Linked DNA regions of Homo sapiens. The protein of the gene in region 1 interacts with the protein of each later gene in a pairwise test. Each region holds a gene or a part of one and is shown in the gene's direction. Other genes may lie near its edges. The genes, in order: CEACAM3, CNIH3 and NINJ1.

Region 1 (7,200 bases):
ACAGGCCAGACAAGTGCTCAGTTCTTCCCACACGTAGATGAGTGCTCTGCCTCCTGAGAGCCTGCTTAGCCCTACTGGACACTGTCTTGTTGCACTTATCATCTGCTGCCTTATATTGAAGGCCTTCATATGCCTCTCCTGCCTCCACCCCCTGCCCTTCTAAATTTCAAACTCCTTGGCCGCACAGACTGGTGCACTGTTTCCATATCCCTCACGCTATCCAGCTCAGCACTTGGCAAACATTAGCTCACCACAAGAATGCATCCTCAGGTTTTTAAGTCAGACAAGGGCTTCATAGCAGTTCTATTGACATTGGGGATGAACAGTTCCTTGCGGTGGGGGCTGTTCTGTGCATTGTGAGACGCTCAGCAGCATCCACGTGGCCTCTTTCCACTAGATGCCAATAGCAGCCTTCCCTCTCTCCCGTCCCCACCCCGGTATGAAAACCAAAAATGTCTCCAAACATTGCCAAATGTCCCCTGGGCGGAAACCACCCTCAGTCCACAACCACTACTCTATACCAATAGTTCTCCACCTGGCCACACATTCAGACTCACCTGAACATTTACACTCAGCCTGGAAGTCAGGGGGACCTAGATCCAAATCCTAGCTCTGTCACTCCCTTTGCAACCCTGACAAGTCGCTTCACTTTTTTTTACCCTGTTTTATCGTCTTAAGATGAATAAATATCCCTTCTCACAATCTTGTTGTGAAGATTAAATGATCCGCAGCGTGACCTAGAAAGGGTTTAATAAATGGACTGTGTAGAATTTCTAAGTCGCTCCTAAAGCACGAGGGTGAGGAACTGCGGAAAGTTCTCTGCGCCGCCAGGAGGCGCCATCATAAACCACGTCGGTGGGTGGCCGCCAGGCTCCAGCTTTGTTTCCCAGCCAAGCAAACTTTGCAATGTGGGCCTGAGTCTGAGCTACTTCGTAGCTGGAGGAAATGACACTCCTCCTCATCCCCCAAAATAATTCTCAAAATAAAATCGAATCTTATTTTATCTTTTCATGACATACATGCTCAATATGCTTTTCACAGGGGAGAGGGAAAAAAGAAATGGATGAGAATATATGAGGATATTATGAAAGAAATCATATTTTATATGATTTATAATAGATGACTCATTACTTATAATATTACTTGTTAATCATAAAATTACTTATAATAATAGCTGACATGTTTTAAGAACTCCTGTGTCTCAGGCATTGTTCTAAGCACTTCACATTTATCTCATTTTATCCTCACAGAAATCTTATGCATTTTACATTTTTTTACTTTTCATTTTTCAGACTTTCAAAAATATTGTAAAAATAGTCAGAGTTCCAGTATATCCTTCATCCAGCTTTTTCAAATAACCTTAACTCTAAAGCAATTATCAAAATCAGTCACCTAGCATTGATACAAAAAATTTTAAAATATAGAAATATGGGGCCGGGCACGGTGGCTCACGCCTTTAATCCCAGTACTTTGGGAGGCCAAGGAGGGTAGATCACGAGGTGAGGAGATCGAGACCATCCTGGCTAACACGATGAAACCCCGTCTCTACTAAAAATACAAAAATTAGCCAGGCGTGGTGGCAGGTACCTGTAATCCCAGCTACTCGGGAGGCTGAAGCAGGAGAATCTCTTGAACTCAGGAGGTGGGGGTTGCAGTGAGCCCAGATCGAGCCACTGCACTCCAGCCTTGGCGACAGAGTGAGACTCTGTCTCCAAAAAAAAAAAAAAGAAATATTAAAATTTTGCTAATCATCCCAGTCATGTCTTTTTTCTGCTCCAGAGTCCAACCCAGGATCCCACACTGAATAACACTGTCACATTTCCTAGGCCTCCTCCAACCTGGGGGAGTTTCCCACTCTTTCCCTCTCTCAGGACCTTGATGCTTTTGAGGAGGTCTGGTCAGTTGTTTTGTAGAATGCCCCTCAATTTGGGTTTGTCTCATGTTTCCTTGGGATGTTTCAGGTTATGCATTTTGGGCAAGATTAGCACAGAAGCGATGTGTCTTTCTCAGGACATCCCAGCCGGAGCCCCAGGATGTCTATATCTCTCATTACCGATGAGGTTCACTTTAAGCGCTTGGTTCAGGTGGTGTCTGCCAGGTTTCTCTACTGTGAAGTTACTATTCATCTCATTGTAATTAATAAGTATCTTGTGGACAGGTACTTTGGAAATATGCAAATAGCCAGTTTGTTCTTAGCATACTTTTACCAATTAATTTCTAGAATCCAGAGATAATTGTAGCCGATAAACAATTCTTACTGTGGTGTTAGCCAGTGATTTTCTGCTTCCATCATTGCTTCTACACTGATTAACTGGAACGCTGCTGTAAGAAAGAGCTAGTTCTTCTTTCTCATTTATTTATGTATTCACTTATTTATATATATATCAGCATGGACTCTCAAGTATTTATCGGTTGGACTACATTACTATTATTATTGATTATGTTGCTATATTGTCCCCAAATTGGCCATTGGGAGCTTCTTCTAGTTGGCATTTGTGATACTTTCCACACATCCCCATCATTTTTCAAGTTGTGCCTTACTCTCAGGCCCCGCAAGATGCTCCAGTCTCCTCTTGTGGTTTCCTGCCCCAGCCCTGGAATCAGCCATTTCTCCAGGGAACCCTGGTTCCTTTCATGGGAGAATGATGTTTACAGACCATGGGCGCCCATATGCCCATTGCTAGTAGGTGCCGGTGCTTCTATGCCCTCTAGTGGTCAGAGCTGGGAAATAACACACCCACACTAGTGTACTGTTACCCACATTTCACAAATTAGGTAAATGAGGCACAGAAAAGTTAGGCAACTTGACCAACATCACAGAGAAAATAGGTAGTGGAACTGGGAAATGAAAATAATGACAGATGCACCACAAGTTCTAACAAGCAAAAGTAGCTTTTTCACACATCCACATCAGCAGAAAGCCACAAGCCCAATATTCCGGCGTAGACACTCTTTGAAAACCAGAATTCCACAGCAATAACCACGATGACAACCACCATGTACTCAACACCCGCCTGGGCACGGGGCTCCCACAGCAGCTCACTTATTCCCAACAACTCTGCAAGGAGGATTTTACCATCCTCCTTTTACAAATCAGGGAATCAAGGATCATAGAAGCCACGTGACTTGTCCAAGTCAACATAGTTAAGTGACAGAACCATTAGCTGTCCCCAGGTACATCTGGACATAAAGTTCATGTTTATGCCACTGTGTCAGCATTTCCAAAAACTGATTTTAGGCGAAACGTAAGTAAGCTTTTTAAAAACTTTAATACTTATGCGTTTATTTTAATATACATTGAGAAAACATTTAAGCACACATCAAATCTGTAATTTCATGGACAATATTGCATAAGACAAGGATGTTTTGTCTCCAACTCCTGGCCTCAAGCCATCCTCCCACCATAGCCTCTCGAGTAGCTGGGATCACAGATCTGAGCCACCGATCCCTGCTAGGACAGGATGTTTTGTAAACTAAATTTATTTAGAAAAAAGGATGAAATATATAATAATAAAGGTGGTACAAGCTAGAGAGAAAATCATAAAGTCAGCCTAGAAATGTCTGGTGTCTGGATGACATAAAGCTACAGCACTGTGAAGCCTCATTCTCAGTTACTCCCAGGAAATTAGAGTCACATAATGCTGCAGAAAGAACAGCTCAGAATCTTAGATCCGGGCTTTAGCCCTAGATATATCCATTTGTAGGACCCCAGACATCTCTGTGACCTCCTTGCTGGGAGTAAATCCAACCTTCCCAGACATGTGAGAACAGTAAGAAGACCCTGCACACACAAAGGAGTTTCTCCGTCACAGAGAAAATAACACCAGGTTCAGGGACCCCAGGGACTCTGCATGGTGCTGACAGACCCAAGGCCAAGGCAGAGCAGAGGTCCACGCTGGGGAGGGAGGGTCATCCTGTTATGAAACAGGGATCCAAGTAAGCCTTGCTTCTCAGAGCCTGGTCTGGGGAACTCAAATGTAGACAGAAGGGAGAAAGGAAGAAGAGAAAATGAGGCAAAACTGAGAGGGGAGGGGACAGAGAGGTGACCTGGGCAGAGCTTCACCCATGACCCTGGAAAGTGCTCCTGCCCTGGGAGGAGGCTCAGCATGGAAAGAGGAAGGACAGCAGAGCCTAAGTCACAGTAGCCCTGACTACAGCATTCCTGGAGCCCAGGCTCTTTTCCACAGAGGAGGAAAGAGCAGGCAGCAGAGACCATGGGGCCCCCCTCAGCCTCTCCCCACAGAGAATGCATCCCCTGGCAGGGGCTTCTGCTCACAGGTGAGTGGAGGATTCCTGGGAGTGGGCAAGAGGAGGGATCACAGAGAATGGCTGGGGTCTCCTGGGGAGGATGGGGCTCTGATAGGGGACAGAAGGCTTCTGCTGAAGCCTCAGGGGAGAGAACATCAGAGAGGGACACGGGTCACAACAAGACAATCACATTGAACTGGGATTGATAAGAGGGAGGAAAATCCATTGATCATGTTTTCCAAGTTAATCATTACTGGCCACTACAATTAGAAAATGATAAGAATAAGAATTACATCAGGGTGATACTTTAAATAAAAATATAACCAGGGCACTAAAACCTGTCTTTGACCACCAACCACAAGTTGCAAAATAACCACCACTCCTTAACTCATCCACCAGTATTTGCAATCAAATTTTAGGCACTGGCGTACAACAAATATCAGACAAGTCTCTGTGTTCAAAGAGCTTACACTCTTGCAGAGATGAAGATAGACACCCAAAGAGATCTAGAATGTGAGTTCAGGTGTTGACAAGAGCCCTGGAGGGAACAGAGCAGAAAAAGGTCAGAAAGGGAAGACCCAGGGTCTCTAGAGGAGGTGTCAGGGGAGGGATCTCCCAAGGATGCCCTGATGTGAGCAGGATCTGAGGGCAGTGGGGAGGGAGCCATGCAGACCCCTGGGGAAGGGGATTCCACACAGGAAAATGCCAAGGTTAGAGGTGCTGAAGAAAGAAAGGTCACGTTACTGACCTTGACCAAGTGGGACACACATACACTCTCCAAGGCTGAAGGGTGAAGAGACTCTCTCAGGACCCAGGGCCCCATCTTTCCATCCCAATACATGGGTCCCAATATTGACTGATGCTTTCTCCCTCCTAGCCTCACTTCTAAACTTCTGGAACCCGCCCACCACTGCCAAGCTCACTATTGAATCCATGCCGCTCAGTGTCGCAGAGGGGAAGGAGGTGCTTCTACTTGTCCACAATCTGCCCCAGCATCTTTTTGGCTACAGCTGGTACAAAGGGGAAAGAGTGGATGGCAACAGTCTAATTGTAGGATATGTAATAGGAACTCAACAAGCTACCCCAGGGGCCGCATACAGCGGTCGAGAGACAATATACACCAATGCATCCCTGCTGATCCAGAATGTCACCCAGAATGACATAGGATTCTACACCCTACAAGTCATAAAGTCAGATCTTGTGAATGAAGAAGCAACTGGACAGTTCCATGTATACCGTGAGTATTTCCACATGACCTCTGGGTGTTGGGGGTCAGTTCTACTTCCCACATATGGGATTGTCAGGCCTGGGCTGTGCCTGTGGCCCTCTCTGCATTACATTCTGTATCAGGGTTTGGACATTTAGTGCAGGACACACACGGGGGAGACAAACTTCCACAGATCAGAATTCCTTTCCTGCATCCAGACCCTGCAGACACTCGCTGCAGAGGAAGGACAGTCTGATGGGGGGACTCAGCAGGGCAAGGTCAGTGTCAGAAAAGAACCCCATGGTCTCCCCATGGACCTGACCCTAAGAAAGACCCTGGAGAACTGGATCAGGGCCTGGCCTGAGGGGTCCCCCTAGGATTCTCAGAGAGAAGCTCAACTCTTCCCAGAACTGAGCCCCTGTGCAAATCCCTGTCCCAGATTCCTGACTCCAGGTGACCCTGGGGACCCTAGGGATCCTGTGCCAGGGCTGAGTGAGGCCTCCTGGGCAGGGCTGACTGGGAGCAAGAATTTACCAGCTGTCTGAGGGTCGTGGCTCCTGGAGTTGGTCACCAGCCAGGGTCCAGCCCCAAGAACCTCTCCTGGGCAAGGACAGGGCCTCATCCTTTACCTGAGACTCAGCATGGAGTGAACAGATGGACAAGATTACTAGGGCATGAGCCCACTGCCCAGGGGAACTTAGATGACTCCATGGGAAGTTCAGTATCCCCAGGGGGAGGAAAAAGAAGAGAGAAGATGCTCCCAGCAGCTCCTTTTCCACAAGGGATCAGACTCAGGGACCTCTCTTTTGGAGGCAAATAAGCATAGATGCTGTTCCTTTGGGCAGCTCCTCTATACACAGCTGAGGTCAAGTAATTGTAAATATTTTGAGATTAATTCACAAACAACGTCACAGCCAAATAGCACTTATCCTACTTATTGAAAAAAAAAATTGAGGAACAGGGAGACAGTCACCGACTAGGGTCACACAAGTCAAAGGTGTCAGATTAGAGTCACACGAGGTCTCTCTGCAGCCACAGCTGCCTCTTCTCCACCAGGGGACGGCTGGCGTTATTATTAGACATCTGCAGGCCTGAGACCAGTCCTAAGTTCTCTTTCCTTTTTCTTGGGCATCCACATCTCAGAGGGGGAGATTTTGGTCTGGAGAGTAAGGGGCAAATGGAAAATTAATCAATTTTTCCTGATATAGTTTGGATGTTTATCCTCTCCAAATCTCATGTTGAAATGTGATCCCCAACATTGGAGGTGAGGCCTGGTGGGAGGCGATTGGATCATGGGGGGCTGTTTCTCATGAGTGGCTCAGCACCATCCCCTTGGTGACAAGTCAGTTCTCACTTTGAGTGCACAGGAGATCTGGTTCTTTAAAAGTGTGTGGCGCCTCCACACTCTCTCTTGCTCCTGCTTTTGCCACATGACACCACCTGCTCCCCCTTCTCCTTCCACCATGATTGTAAGCTTGCTGGGTCTCACCAGAAGCCGAGCAGACGCTGGTGCCATGCCTGTATAGCCTGCAGATCCCTGCATCAATTAAATCTCTTTTCTTTATAAATTACCCAGCCTCAGACATTTCCTTATAGTAACAAAAAATAGCCTAACACATTAGCCTAACCTAGAACTAAATCCCTTGTGTCAACAGAGTCAGTGCCAGGAATGTCCGGGCCTCCCTCTCAGATGCGCACCACTGCCCTCACTCGACCTGAAATCCTGTGTTTCCTGATGTGTCAGT
Region 2 (7,105 bases), on another chromosome or scaffold:
AGCACTGGCTCTATCCTCCAGCTTCTCAATGCTCACCCCCTTATCGAGGGGTGGCTGAAATGCAGTCAAATTCCAACTCAGGTTTTATCCAGATTCCTCGTGGAAGTGGCAAGATTCTTGTTTCTAATAATGAAAAGAATTTGTGCGTTTTGATTTCAAATTACGGTAATAATTTCATAGTCTCAGTCCCTCCTTTCCTAGTCTTTTCCTTCTCTATCCCTTTCCCTCTCTCCAAATCAAACAACCCAAACCCCATCACACTGATTTGGTTCCTGAACATTGAACTGGGAAACCAGAGACACCCTGATTTCAGGGCACGGTTTGTATGTCTGGGTGTTAGTTACATGGTAGTAATTATTTCAACCAAAATTGAGGAGACTTGGTTTTATGTTAGACTGTTTGCCTTCTTTCCAGCTTCTTATATTACTTATGTACTTCTTGATCGGACAAGGCATATTGATTGTGTGATATATATCAGTACCCCAAAAAATGAATTGGGCGCTTAACAACATATAGCGGTTAAAATGCCTGCCATGCTGCCATGCCTAGGCTGTAAGATATGAAGATGGCGTGCTTTTCTTATTGAATTGTACGTACCTACTTAGGGGTAATGATGGTAGCTACTATGTATTGGGTGTCTGCTGTAGGACAAGTTTTAAGTACTTTACAGAGGATCTCTCAGTCCAATCGTTTTCCTCCCCTTTTTTCCCACTGGATGTCTGGGAGCAAGGATGGATGTGGCCAGCCTTTCTTTCAAGTCTTGTTTTTTACTTTGAAAATTTATCTGCATTTGTTTTCAGTTGAAAATATTTCAAGTTACCCATTTATTTTATATCAGCTACTATCTCTGAGTACATTTATCACATTTGGAAGAAGCAGAAGAAAACTAGGTTTTTTCTGTGGCTTTGCATACCCTCAGGCACCTGGCCTCTTACTGCCCAGGCAGCCCTTTAGTCCTCATAACGGACATTTCGCAGATGAGGAAACTGGATCAGAGAGATTACAAGGTTGCCTAAGGTTGCACAGCTGATATGTATTGGAGCTGGTATGCATGGACTTGAGCTAGGTCTGTGAGACTCTTAAGCCTAAGCCCTTTCTCTAACTGTAGTCACTATTTTTGGATTCATAACTTAGATAATAATTTATATCCAAAGGATTACCTTTCTCTGTATAAATGAAATTTTAGAGTTGGAATTTCTGATTGGGGTTACAATAGCAACAGCAACCAGACTCAAGACATGCTATATATCCTTTTTTAAAAGAGGAAAATTCTATTTATTTAAATTAGACTTCTGCTTATAAAATGATACAGGTTCCTTGTCCAAAATTTTGAAAATACAATGATTTGTAATTAAATAAAATCATCAGTAATCTTATCCAGAAAAGATTATCTCTTGTGTATTTTAAAAAATTGCATATGGCCGGGCTCAGTGGCTCATGCTCGTAATCCCAGCACTTTGGGAGGTTGAGGCAGGAGGATCACTTGAGCCTAGGAGTTTGAGACCAGCCTAGGCAACATAGTGAGACCCCATTTCTAAGAAAAAAAAATTGCATGTGGACGTTTAGAAGGAAAAAAAAGCGTTCTAAAGGGTTTTTGATGTGAAGTGATATGTATTTCCAGCCAGTATAAAATGAATGGTGTTTACTCACAAGAGCCTTCTCTGCTCCGGCTCGGTTAAGCCTGTTTGCAGTGTGTCTCATTTATATAAACACAGATGAAGCTATTCTTTGAAAAGATCAAAGATTCAGTACTGAATTTCAGGTCTTTAGCTTTTGAAGTTTTTATATTTGGAGTCACTATGAGTTTTGACAATTTACAAATAAAATTAATTCCCAATAAAATTCCCTAGAAAGATCTGATGCACCATCTCACCTTGAAATTTCTTTGGATTCACAGCAGCATTTGCTGTTTGAGGGTTTAAATGGCCCTGGACAGGGATGACATACATATGTGCCGAGAGGCAGTTTTGTTAGAGAAGATGTCTTCATGGTGGAGTGTTTTGCCAGTTCCACCTTGTCACAGGCTCAGCCTCTGGAAGTCTAGTAAACATCTCAGTTTCTCACAGTACCCACCTGGAAACAAAAAATGGGTTTATGTGAAATGGTAGGATGCTTGGGGTTGACAATAAATAGCCTGTTTTTTTATGACCCTGCCTTGGCCTACTCAGATGAGGGTACTGCACTCACTGCCAGGTCTTACTTGGTCTCCACTTTCTGTTCTACTTGTGATGCCCCTGTCCGTTCTGGCATCTCACTTTCAGGTGGGATGTCCGCAGCTCCAGCCTGCTCCATCCCCCTTTTATCTCCTCCCTCCGTCACTGTCCATTGCCCCACAGCTGAAGTGGAAGGAAGCTCCATGAGAGCAGGGACGTTTTCTACTTTACCATTGTTTCTCCAGAGCCCAGAACAGTGCCTGACACATAGAGAGTGTTTGGTATAAATACTCATAGGACAAATTCTTGTTTCCTTCTGGCTTGACGCATTTCCAGTTGACATAGTGATATGTTTTGGCTATGTTCACACCCAAATCTCATCTTGAATTGTAGCTCTCATAATCTCCACGTGTTGTGGGAAGGATCTGGTGGGAGGTAATTGAATCGTGGGGGATGGGGTTTTTTTTGTGCTGTTCTCATGATAGTGAATAAGTCTCATGAGATCTGATGGTTTTATAAAGGGCAGTTCTCCTGCACATGCTCTCTTGCTTGCCGCCATGTAAGACATGCCTTTGCTCCTCCTTCACCTTCTGCCATGATCATGAGGCCTCCTCACAGCCATGCTGAACTGTGAGTCCATTAAACTTCTTTTCTTTGTAAATTACCCAGTCTCAGGTATGTCTTTATTAGCAGTGGGAGAACAGACTAACAGTAACTCGTTTCTGATTTGGCTTCTGGCTGCTTCTTAAGGACTACTTTCTGGGTAGTTTGGACAATGTGCATTTTCCCCCATGCCTTGGCACTTTGAAACTTTGGAAGCTAATTATTGCAAAGAAGACTGGCCATTGCCATGGGGTATAGGGCCCTTCTTGATGATAGTGGAGCTGGTTCTCTTTCAGAGGAGCAGATTGGGGAGAAGCACTGGCTATCCCTGGAGAGAACACCTTCTGGAAAATGTAATGTCTGGATTGATGCATGGCACCTTATCATTGTTTGCGTTGCTTGCCGCTTTATCCTTGTTTGCATTGCAATAACTCTCCCTGAAAAAGAAAGCTTACGTCATCATTGTATTTCCACTGCAGTCATGTTAGAGAGGAGAGGAGAGAAGTGTGCAGAATTCACAGGTCACCTAAAACAATCAGGAACCAGCCCCAATCCCAACTGTTTGGTGAGGTTTCAAGGCCTCACTGGGGTTGGATGTTAGAGACACTAAAGTAACTTGTCTTTGACTTTTGAGTTACTGAACAAACATTAAAGGCAGTGAATGTTGTGAGGCTCTTGCCAGGCAATTGGAGCTCTTGCCTATACTGGCCCTGAAGCTGTGCCCAGGCCCTTGCCTCACTCTAGCCCCTCTGGCTACCTGGTGCTTTTCCCTTCTGTATATCCACATGGCTCTGCGCTTTGCCCTCTGGACTTGTTTTCTGCTGTGGACCTCTCTCCCAGTAAGTCTGCAAACAGGTTCCTCTGGGGCCTTATTCTTCAGTAGCTGTGCTATCTGGATGGTGCCTTTGCCACCATCATCTGACTCACTCCTATGGGCCCCTCCACTGGGCACCACTGAGGACTTGGCTCCTGGTCACTGTCCTGTCCTTGCTGTCCTGCAAGGTGCTGGGTGCTGTTGGTTATCTGACCTCCCCTCTAGTGACCACTTCCATCTTTGTGGTCCCTGAGCCCCCTGACCTGCCCTGGACCTGCCTCTGCAGTGAGCTCCCTGTTCTCTACTCCCGCACTCTGCTGCCCCAGGGGCTCTTGGCCCTCCTTTGACTGTGGCTTTTCCTTCTTCTCTCAATGCATCGCTCCTCTAGGATTTACTTCCTCCTCTGTGTCATTACCCCTCATCATCCACCACTTAGCTCCTGCTGCTGCTCTCCACTGCTGCGTCCTCTGTTTCCTGTCGCTCCTGTAGTGGATGCCTCAGTCTCCCAGGAGTCTACTCTCTTCCCTCTCTTCTCTCACCCCAGGTACCCGGGAGCTGCTGGGTCCCAGGCGGATGCACGGTTTGACCTTAGCTGGCCTCAGTATTGCCTTCTAACTCATCAGCTGGATGTGAGTCAGTTCCTTCAGCTTCCACAACACTGTTGTAGATTGTTGTCATTTTCTCAGAGCCCCCTGAAGCTCCCAAAACTGTCCCCCACCCCTGACTGCCTCTGAGCAGATGACTTTAATTCCAGCTCCTGGAGAAGATAGAGATGATCAGACAGGGATGCCTCAGGATCCTGCCCCTCCCCAGAATTCTGATTAATGATTTATTTTTCCTTCTCAGACTCAGAAGCAGCAGAGTCTGTCCCTCATCTGAGGCCACTTCCTCCCCTCCTAGTTATCTGTGGACATTGCTCCATCACTTTTCCCCACCTGTCTGTGTCTTCAGCCACTGCCCTTCGCAGGTCCACCCGTCCCCACCCCCTGGCAGATTCAAAGGCTGTGGTGCCTCTGAGCTGCAGACAAGCCTTTGGTCCCCAGGCCCTCTAAATGCTGCTCAACCTCTCTTCCCTTGCAGAGTGGTTTTGTCTCACCACATCCTGCCTGCCGTCACCTCTTTGGATTCTGACATCAGACACTCAGAAACCACGGAGACTAATAAAACAAAGCCCTCTGCATCCACCACTCAGAATTGGCAAGTGTCAGCATTTTGCTATTTGTGTATCTTATCTCTTTTCCAAAGACACTTGTTTCCTTTCTGGCCACCTGACTTGTGCCCCCGCCCCTTCTCAGCTCAGCACTTGATGAGGACATCAGTGGTCTGTGGCAATCTCTGGGCACCATTTAGTGCTTATCTTGGCCTCTCCGTGGCTTTGAGACTGCTGTCCGTGTCTTCTTTGCAACTGCTTTCAAATGTTGTTTTTCTGGGGCCCTGTTTCTCCTCCATCTCCCCTGTGGGTTCTTCTTTCTGTACCTTCCTCTCCATGTTGGTAGTTTCCTGGCCTCCCAGACCTGTCCCCCGACACTGACCTGTGTGTCCATGGGGCCACCTGCCCCATGCCCCACAGTTGGATCCCAGCCGAGCTTGTCTTCATGCCCTCCTCACTCCTCACAGCCCCAGTGGGTTTAGTCTTCACCCAGAGACCCTCTCTACCCCATCTGCTCCTTCTGTAGTCACCAGCCATGTCTGTCCCCTCCCTTCCATGCTTCCCATCCCTGCCTTGGTTCAGGCCCCCATTTGCTGTTTCTCAGAGCATCGTGGTCCCTTCCAAGCTGGCCTCCTTGGTTATCATCTCCCCTGGACTAAACCACCCCACTCATGGCTACCAAGAGTGATCTAATACCTGAAAGGATCCTTCCATGTTATTCCCAGACTAAAGCTTTTTCTGGTTTCTCTCGCTTTCAAAGTTTAGAGGGCTGGGAGGACCAGGTCCCGGTTAACTGTTTAGCCACATTTTGCATTTTCTGTGTTCCAGATATCCTCACCTTCTTGCAATTCCCAAATGGGCTGTTCTGTCTCCCTGGAATGCTGTTCCCCACTTCATTCTTCACCCGACTGGCTCTGCTGCAGCCTTTGTCCTCTAGGAAGCCGCATTCTCCCTGGCGATCTGAGTCCACTTGTCCTCTGAACCTGTCCCCAGGTCTGAGTCCCACTGTTGTATTTGTCTCTGTGCTTGGACTATAAGCTTCTGGAGGGCAGAAACTGTTGCCCTCACTTGTGGCCTCAGTGTCCAGCATGGGGCAGTATGGTGGGAACTCAGTGATTGCCAATAAATAAGGATCTGGATAATTTATTACAGCCAGCTTAAGCTTGATAGACTCCTCCTCAATGAATACTTTCCCAGACTTACCTGGTTATGACAATCATCTGGATGCTTACTAAAAATGCACATTTTTGTCCGGGCGTGGTGGCTCACGCCTGTAATCCCAGCACTTTGGGAGGCCTAGGCGGGCGGATCATGAGGTCAGGAGATGGAGATCATCCTGGCTAACATGGTGAAACCCCATCTCTCCTAAAAATAAAATAAAAAAAAAATTAGCCAGGCGTGGTGGTGGGCGCCTATAGTCCCAGCTACTCGGGATGCTGAGGCAGGGGAATGGTGTGAACCCAGGAGACAGAGCTGGCAGTGAGCTGAGATGGCGCCACTGCACTCCAGCCTGGGCGACAGAGCGAGACTCCGTCTCAAAAGAAAAAAAGCACATTTTTGGGCTCTGCTGAAGGCCCATGGAATCCTAGACTTGGTAGCTCTCTCTGTGTAAGGGAGGCTAACTGAGCTTCAATCCAGAATTAAGTGGAGGGGAGATGGTGGATGGGATAGATCAGGGTGGTTGAAGGTGTGGAGGAGGGCACTGCTGGGGAGAGGTTGTGAACAACAGACACCAAAGAAGACGAGCTGTGACAGGAAAGGGCTGTCAGATGGTGACTGTAGCCCAGCAACCCATGTCTATGCCCAAAAGCAGAGGATGATGTCGAGGCTGATGCAGGGGGCTGCACGCTAGTCTCTCCAACATCACGTATGTTGATTTTGTGCTTCAAGATAGCGATCCCACTGCTATCTTGTAATACCCATTTTTTTTTTAATCATAGATTGTGAAATACACCTTTCTTCCATCCTTTGACAACTAGGTGTAGATAGTCCCCTTGTGGGTTAGATAAGGCAGATATTAAATTCCAGGCTGAAATCCTTGCCATTCACATTGCTTCTGAGTTGCTTCTTCTTCTAGGACCTGGAGGGTCTTTAGAAAAATAAGCTGAACTGTTTTAATCTAGAGAAGAAGCATTAAGTGAGCTCTGCTACAAATAGTGAGGTCATTTGCATGAGTAACCAACTCAGATCTGCAGGGTTGGAAGTGGTTGCTGTTTGGGATCATTCATAGCCAGAGTGTCTGCATCTTAACAGGGTTAGCTGAGGGTTGCCTGCATTTCTTAATGACACTTGGAATCTGCTTAACTCCCACAAACTGGTCACTGAAAACTCTAAATGCACAGCTAGATCCTGAACTGGTTTCTGAATACAAATCCAGGGCATAAT
Region 3 (7,879 bases), on another chromosome or scaffold:
AATACAAAAAATTAGCTGGGCGAGGTGGTGGGCACCTGTAGTCCCAGCTACTTGGGAGGCTGAGGCAGGAGAATGGCGTGAACCCAGGAGGCGGAGCTTGCAGTGAGCCGAGATCACGCCACTGCACTCCAGCCTGGGCGACAGAGTGAGACTCTGTCTCAAAAAAAAAAAAAAAAGTAAAAAACTAAATTATAGCAGCCTCTGAACAGGATAGTTGTTTTTTTGTTTGTTTGTTTGTTTTTCCTTACTCACACCTAAGAAGTCTGGAGGTGGGCAGCCCAGGGAGGCCTGTGCTGCAGGCATTGTGGATGCAGGTTGCTTCTGTCTTCAGCTCCACTATTTGAGGCTCCCATGGCCAAGGTCTCCTCACGGTCCAATACGGCTGTTGGAGCTCCAGCCATTACATCCACTTTCCAGCCAGCAAGATAGAGGAAGTAATAAAGAATGGCACACCCCTTCTGTTTAGGGTTCCTTCCCTGATGTTGCACACAACATTTTCATTGCCAGAATGTAGCCATAAGGGTACCTCTAGCTGCAGGGGAGAGAGAAATGCAGCTCTGATTCTGGGAAGCCACTGGTGCAGCTCAAAGTCAGCAGCCTGTGACTGAGCAGGAAGAAGAGAACAGATAGTGGGGGATGACTACTCTCTCTGCCACTTTGCTGTGGCAGCTGGGGACAAGAGCTTTGCTAGGCACAGATGTCCATAAATGCAAAGTGGCATCAGCCCCAGCCTGGCCCCTGGGAGCCCCAGTGGGAGAGACGGATGCACAAACAGGAAGGAACAGAGCAGTGTGTCAGGGTGCAGCAGAGGAAGCAGGGGCCAGCCTCCTGCTCCTGCCTGTTCTCTGCCCGCAGTGCAGCTGGACCCCTCCACATCCGCTGGCCTGGCCTCGCTTGCTCTGTAGACGATGGCATCCCACTCCCGAATGCAGATGGCCATAATCCACTTAGCCACTCCCTTGTGGTGGACGTCCACTTTGTTTCTGTTGTTCTGTGGCCTTCTAGGGCCAGCTGTGCCTCGCTGTGCAGCCTGGACACATTGCTTCTCTGTGGTGGACAGCATGAGAGGCTCTCATACCTGCGTGGTGCTCATCTCCCATCACCTCGCCCCTTATCATCCTTGACCTGGCTGTGCCTCCCCTCCCACTGAGCCCTGCCTGGTGACCTTGGCAAGTCCCTCGGCTCTCTGAGCCTCTGCCATCCCATCTTTAGTGTGGGGATGATGGCATGGCACCTCCTCACAGGCCTGGGCTTCCTTCCTCTGTCCTTCTGGAAATGGGGTGGCCACGCTACACACCCGCCTCCCTTACCTCCCTGCTCTGTACACTGACCCAGTGAGAGCTGTGGTCCCTGGGGACCGCCTGATAGAAATGCAGACTCCTGGGCCCACCCTGATGCCAGGTAACAGCTCCTTCAGGTGGGTGGGGAATGGATGGGCCACGCCTGGTGCTGGCAATACCACAGGCTTCCAGGGAGTTGCCATTGCCCTGGGCCGACTGCCAGCCCCGTCCTCCTCCCGCTCATGTTAGCAAGAGCATGTGCAGGCGGGCAGGTGGGCATGCAGAGCTGGGTCACCTCGGGCATGCTGCGCCACCTTGCCAGACTCGCTTTCTCCCTTGGTGATGTGGAAACGGCATACCTGCCTGCAAGCCTCTCCGAGGTGGAGGAGGCCAGGGACTGGCTGCTTCTGAAGGCTTTCTGTAGGTGAAAACATGGTCCATCTGACCCATGGACCTTTCAACAGCTTGGTGCTTTCACCGCATGTTCCCCCAGGTCTGAGAGACACAACTGTACTCCCCATAGTACGCGGTGGGGGTCGCTTAGACCGTGCTTAGTCCCAGCTCCTAGGACAGTGGGTGAGTAGAAGGTCCAAGCCTCCGGTGTGCCTGTTCTCTGCCCCACTGGGGTCTCATTCTTGGTCAGCGGGATGGAGCCACCTGCTTGAGGTGGCACTGTGAGGAGCACGCTGGGGTGACACCTCCATGGTCCTCACATGCCATCTTGCCTTATACCCACTTTACATATGAGGAAGCACATCCCAAGCCAGAAGGGGCAGATCTGAACTCAACACAACGCCAGCCCCAGAAGAATCCACTAGAGTCTTTGATGGGGGAGAGGGATGCACCAAGCCTCCCTGGGCACCAGAGAGGCATCCTGAGATACCCTGTGGGCTCCTCCACAGAGGCCTGGGGCCCTCGTACATATACAGTGTTTGTGTGTGCACACCCACCCACACATAGGGCTGCTCTGCTGGGGCATCTGCCAGCCCGTTCCTCCCAGCCACACCCCTCCTCTGTGTCTCTCCTGGGGACATGTCCCTCAGCTCAGGGTCAGCGTCTAGAAACTGGTCTTGGACAGCTCATGCACTCATGGTCTCCAGGAGAACTTGAAAGTAGGTGGTTGGGCCCGGTGCAGTGGCTCACGCCTGTAATCCTTTCACTTTGGGAGGCTGAGGTAGGCAGATCACAAGGTCAGGAGATCGAGACCATCCTGGCTAACATGGTGAAACCCCGTCTCTACTAAAAATACAAAAAATTAGCCAGGCGTGGTGGCGGGCGCCTGTAGTCCCAGCTACTCGAGAGCCTGAGGCAGGAGAATCGCTTGAACCTGGGAGGCGGAGCTTGCAGTGAGCCAAAATCGCGCCACTGCACTCCAGCCTGAGCAATAGAACGAGACTCCATCTCAAAAAAAAGAAAAAAAAAAGGTAGATGGAGGTGACACGGGGTACACTGTGCCTTTAAGACTTGTCCTGGGTTGGATCCAGCAGAGAACAGTTGGGTAAACAGCATTGAGCACAGTGGGGAAAACAGACACTACATACTCAAATGAGGATGACGGAGCAGACGAGGGAACTCCAGCGCTGCAGCCTGCCTGAGCCCTGACACCCACACGTCCTGCCAGCAGCCCCAGGAGCTGAGGAAACTGAGGCTGGGAGAGGGTCTCAGACGGCCAGCACAGAGCAGGTTTACAAACCCCGAGGCTGATGTCCCAACTGTCACTGGTGCTGCGACCCTCCCGGCTTCCTCTTAGAAGGTGGGAATGGGGCCAGGCGCAGTGGCTCATGCCTGTAATCCTAGCACTTTAGGAGGCTGAGGCGGGCAGATCACCTGAGGTCAGGAGGTGATCTGGCCAACATGGTGAAATTCTGTCTCTACCAAAAATACAAAAATTAGCCGGGCGTGGTGGCGCACACCTGTAGTCCCAGCTACTCAGGAGGCTGAGGCAGGAGAACGGTGTGAACCCGGGAGGTGGAGCTTGCAGTGAGCCAAGATCGCACCACTACACTCTAGCATGGGCGACAGAGCAAGACTCCATCTCAAAAAAAAAAAAAAAAAAGGATGGGAATGATGAACCACACTGCAGGAGCTCCCACATGGCACAAAGGAAAGAATACTCTCAGGACGGGGTCTCCACCTGCCAAGCCCTCCTACTTCGGGGCCTCTCTACACGCCCTTGGCCTTCCAAGGTCTCAGGGCTCCCCTGCAGCTCCCAGGGCCCTTTCTGGGTGTGACGTATTTTCTCTGTGGTCCCACACCTCCTGCCCCTCCAGGAATTGAGCCCTCGTGGGCAGGCACTATCCCCCAGAATAGGGATTTGTCCCATACTGTGAGAGAGTTTTTTGTGTGAATGGTGCTGGATTTCCAGCTGCTGGTGAACACTCAGGTGTGCCAACAGTGCCCTGATTATGCGAGGACAACAGCAACCATCCCCGTCGTGGGCCACCGTGCCAGACCCTGTCCTGCAGATCCCCTCTGAGGCAGAGCTGGGGCAGTGACAGCCTGAGCCTCAGTTTCTCTGCTGTGAAGTGGGCCCACGACAGCTCCTCCTTCATGGGATGACCCCGTTTGGAGGATCAGGGCAAGCGCAATCCTGCTGCCCTGCCCATGCCCACTCACTCCTACCTCCTGTCCCGGTGGCAGCCTGACTGGACAGAGCCTGGGGTCTGAGCTGGCCTTCCTTCCACTGCCCTTCTGGAAATAGAGTGGCCATACTGCCGCAAGCTGACTATGCTGTGGTCAGGATGAACTCCCCTGGCCTCCCAGGGTGGCCGCCACATGCTCTCGACCCCCAGGCCCCCAGATGGGCAAAGTGCTGAGGAATGAACATATGGAGAAACAGAGACCAAACAACCACTTCAATCATACAACAGGTGGGGGCCCGCCTAGCATCTGGCCAGGGCTCTGGGCACTGTGCTGCCCCCAGCCCACCCCCTGCCACAGGTGGCACAGATGGGCCCATGAGTCAGCGCACGTTCATCCCCTTTGTGCCTCCCCCAGCCCCTCCAGCAGTCTGTGCCCTCATAACCCCCATTTCCCAGGCAGGAAAACCTAAGGTCAGGGAGTGGGAAGCCCTGTGTCAGCGTGGCCCGCAATCAGGGGAACCCCGGACTCTCTGACGCTGTTACTAGGGGCGCAGCAGGCGCTGTGCTGGAGCGATCTGCGGTTCCCAGGGCGAACCCCGCCTGGGAAAAACCCAGCGTGGGCGCCAGCGGCAACGCCCGCTCGCTTTCATGCAGTTTGCCTGGTGGCCAGGGAAAGGTCGTTCTTGGCCTCATTTTGTGGATTAAAAGTGTCCGCGACGGAGGTTCAGAGCAAGACGCAGCGCAGGGTCCTCTGGGGCCATCGGCGTCGCGCCCCCTCCCTTGTGGGGCCCCGCGGGACCGTCTCAGGCCCGAGGGGTTGGGGTCGCCCCAAACTGCGCGCTCTCAGCGTACAGCCTCCAGGCCCCGGGCCCGCCCCGGGTGGAGGCGGAGTCTGGGGCAGCAGCTCGCCGCCGGGCGGGCCGGGGGCGGGCCGGGGGCGGGCGCGCAGCTGGAGCCTGCGGCTGAGGCTCGGGCGCGCTCAGGCCCGGATCCTGGCGGCCTGGGCGGCCGCACCATGGACTCGGGAACCGAGGAGTACGAGCTCAACGGCGGCCTGCCTCCGGGCACACCCGGCTCCCCGGACGCCTCGGTAAGACCTTCCCCCCACCGCTGCATGATCTTGCCAGGCCCTGTCCTTTCGGGGCGCCGCGGCTCCCCGGGCACCTGTGTGCGCCGCGTCCGCACTGCAGAGTGTTGGGGGACGTCCCGCTCTAGGCCAAGTCCTTCCCGCCCCATCAGGGTCAGAACGATGCCCCCGGGAGCTCCAGCCACCCCCGGCAAGTGGGCGGGACGAGGGGGCGTGGGGGCGCAGGGCGGGCTGGCGTCCCCAGCCCCACTAAGCAGCGCCCGCGCTTGGCTGCACGGCGGAGGGGGCCTCGGCGCAGCTCCTCGGGCTAAGGACTGCCGGCGCCCGGCTTTCCCGACCTCCCCCCCACTCTCGCGCGGGCCTCTCTAACTTCAGCCTCGCCGTGCCGGCTCCTCCGCGCACTTTGCCCGGAGGCGGGCGGAGGGGAGTCACAGCCTCCGGGCTCCAGACCAGCTGCATGCAGACAGTTACGTCACCCCACGCTGACCACACAATCTGATGCGTGCCTTGATGGGGGAACTTGGGGCCCGCTGTGGTCCCTATTCCACTCACCTGCCTTGAGAAATAGAAACGTCACACAGCCTTCAGTGTATGCCGCCACCGGCCCTCCAGAACTTGCCCTGCCCGGCCTGGGAGGGCTGTGGGCAGGGGGCAGGCCCTGGTAGTGGTCCCGCTTCAGAATTCTTCATCCCAGGACTCAGCACTTACTGAGCACCTTGTGTTTGTTGCAAGGTCCTGGCATGGCCCTCTGGTGACTTGTTTACTTTGAACATTCTTTCCTTTTCTAACCCCCTCAGGGATGGGGGCAGGGAACAGCAGCCTGTTGGGTTTTTCCAGGCCTCTCCATGGCGTGGACCAGACTGGGGCAAAGACACTCTGCCCACTCGCTGGTGAACAGTCCTAGGCCGGTGCTGTGGGGACAGGACATGTTCGGGGAGGCGGGGCCCCATGAGCCACGGGATAGGATGGCCCTGGGGCTGCATGGACACTTGTTCCTAGGTTAGAGAGGAGCTGTCGCACTGCAGGACTTGACCGGTGTGCGGGACCCCAGCGACCTGGCCCTGCCCCAGTGTGTGAGCACTTTGGAGCAATAGGCAGGGGGCTCCTCCGGCTGTGTGTCCTTGGGAAGTTGCCACACCTCGCTGGGCCTTTTAGACATGGTCTTATAAAGAGAGAACAAAGGGTCTCTCCTGCCTTCAGGGAAGTGGGGAAAGCAAGTCAGGTAATAAACAGGTCAGTGGCTTGGAAGCGCCTTGGAAAGGAAGGGATACTGCTCCTCCCCCAACCCTGACCTTGCCCGGGCAATGCCCTCCACTCAGAGCAGTCTCTGCTCACTTCTGCGGGCGGCAGGATAGGCTGTGCCTCCTGAGATGGGTGCATCTCAAGCCCAGAGGAGATTGGGTTGGATTTGTTCCCGGATCACTGTCTTGGCTCTGGGCACCAGAGGGAGAGAGACACAGCCCCGCCCCACCAAGCCGCGGTTGGAGAGCAGCCCAGCCCAGACAGGGCAGGAGAGGCCAGGGCAAAGCAGGGGGTTCCCTGGGGGCTGGGAGCCCATCGTGGGGGGCGGGGCATGGTGGTCAGGGAAGGCTTTCTGTGGAGGTGGGGACATTGGCTCTGAGCCCTGGAGGGCAGGGAAGGTGGGTGAGCAGATCTGGCTCTCTGAGATGTGTGGAAGGGCATCTAGGCAGAGGGAACAGTGGGAGCAAAGGCTCAGAGGCTGGACCACAGAGCACATGAGGGCCAGGTAGGAGGTGGGGGGATGGGAAGCCAGGCCGATGGGAGGGGCCTTGCAGGCCTGATCACGGTCTGGTGTCCAGGGAGCTGTGGAAAGGCTATGAGCCAGTGTGAGGATGAGCACATTTCCCCTTGAGGGGTAGAAAACTTCGAGGGCCGCTCTGCTCACCCAGCCTGGGGGCCCAGGACCACCCAACACACCTGTTCCTCTTCCCAACCTCAAGACCTTGCTTCTCCGTTTCTTGGGCACATCATGTCAGCACTCTGTGCCTCAGTTTCTCATCTGTGAAATGGGTGTGGTCGCGGTGCCTGCCATAGAGAGTGGTGAGGACTCAGTAGCTGATGTATATGAAGTGCTTAGAGCCAGGCCAGCACTCAGCGCCCTCATCCTTCTGCCTGCCACGGAGACCCTCTCCCACTGGTGACCCCTGGCAGTGGTTTGGAGAGGGCAGCGCTTTGCCCAGCTCCCTCAGTTTCCTTTTCTGTAAAATGGAGAGTCTCAGTTTCCTTTTCTGTAAAATGGGGCACAACTGCTCACCTCCCAGGGTGGACAAGGCTCAGGGAGGAGCCACACGTGGAACTCCAACCTGGGTGGGCTCTGTTGGGCCACGGCCGTGGGAAGCTCTCAGGTCTCCCCTACCCCGTGTGCCCTGCGCCCCTGTGGCCCTTCATGTGAGGGCCCCCATCAGTGTCCAGGGATTGAGTCAGCTCACTTGTGGCTGTCAGCAGAAGGAATAGTAAACAACAATGTTAATGTGAAAATGGCCTGAATCTGTTATCCCCAGGGTGTCTCAAGGCAGGGAGGTGGTGGGGATGGGGTTAGGACACGGCCATCTGGTGCCAGCCACACCTTCCTGCCCCTCACAGCCCGCAGGTTGAAGGTTCCTGGGGCCACATCTGGGCCGAGAGGCATGGTCCTTGGAGGTAGGTAGCTGTGCCCTGTATACCTGCCGTCTGGGCCGTGCATGGCCTCAGCTGCCCAGGAGGAGGTTTGCTCGTTTCCTCATTTCCGCTTTCCTGGCAGATCCTGAGGCCGGCAGGGTCTGGGCCAAGTTCTAAAAGGCAACCCTAACATGGTCTCAGGGCCACTCGTGGCCAGTGCTGAGTCCGCGGGAAGTGGGTCTGCCTGGCCCAGCTGTGGTGGGAACCCCGCCTTCCAGCACTTCCTGCTGTCTTGCTGGGGTTTCCTGCCA

Evidence for each region.
Region 2: the proteins of CEACAM3 (region 1) and CNIH3 interact in binary tests that used the Homo sapiens proteins (3 or more experiments, as listed by UniProt).
Region 3: the proteins of CEACAM3 (region 1) and NINJ1 interact in binary tests that used the Homo sapiens proteins (3 or more experiments, as listed by UniProt).

What each region holds. Positions count from the first base shown.
Region 1 is NC_000019.10:41,792,464-41,799,663, forward strand, and holds the start of CEACAM3 (cell adhesion molecule CEACAM3 isoform 1 precursor), read left to right. Parts: upstream 1-4,123; 5' UTR 4,124-4,214; coding exon 4,215-4,278; intron 4,279-5,125; coding exon 5,126-5,485; intron 5,486-7,200.
Region 2 is NC_000001.11:224,619,299-224,626,403, forward strand, and holds part of CNIH3 (protein cornichon homolog 3), read left to right. Parts: intron 1-7,105. UniProt on the Homo sapiens protein: Regulates the trafficking and gating properties of AMPA-selective glutamate receptors (AMPARs).
Region 3 is NC_000009.12:93,131,216-93,139,094, reverse strand, and holds the start of NINJ1 (ninjurin-1), read left to right. Parts: upstream 1-4,843; 5' UTR 4,844-4,877; coding exon 4,878-4,952; intron 4,953-5,501; exon of another isoform or gene 5,502-6,083; intron 6,084-7,553; exon of another isoform or gene 7,554-7,610; intron 7,611-7,879.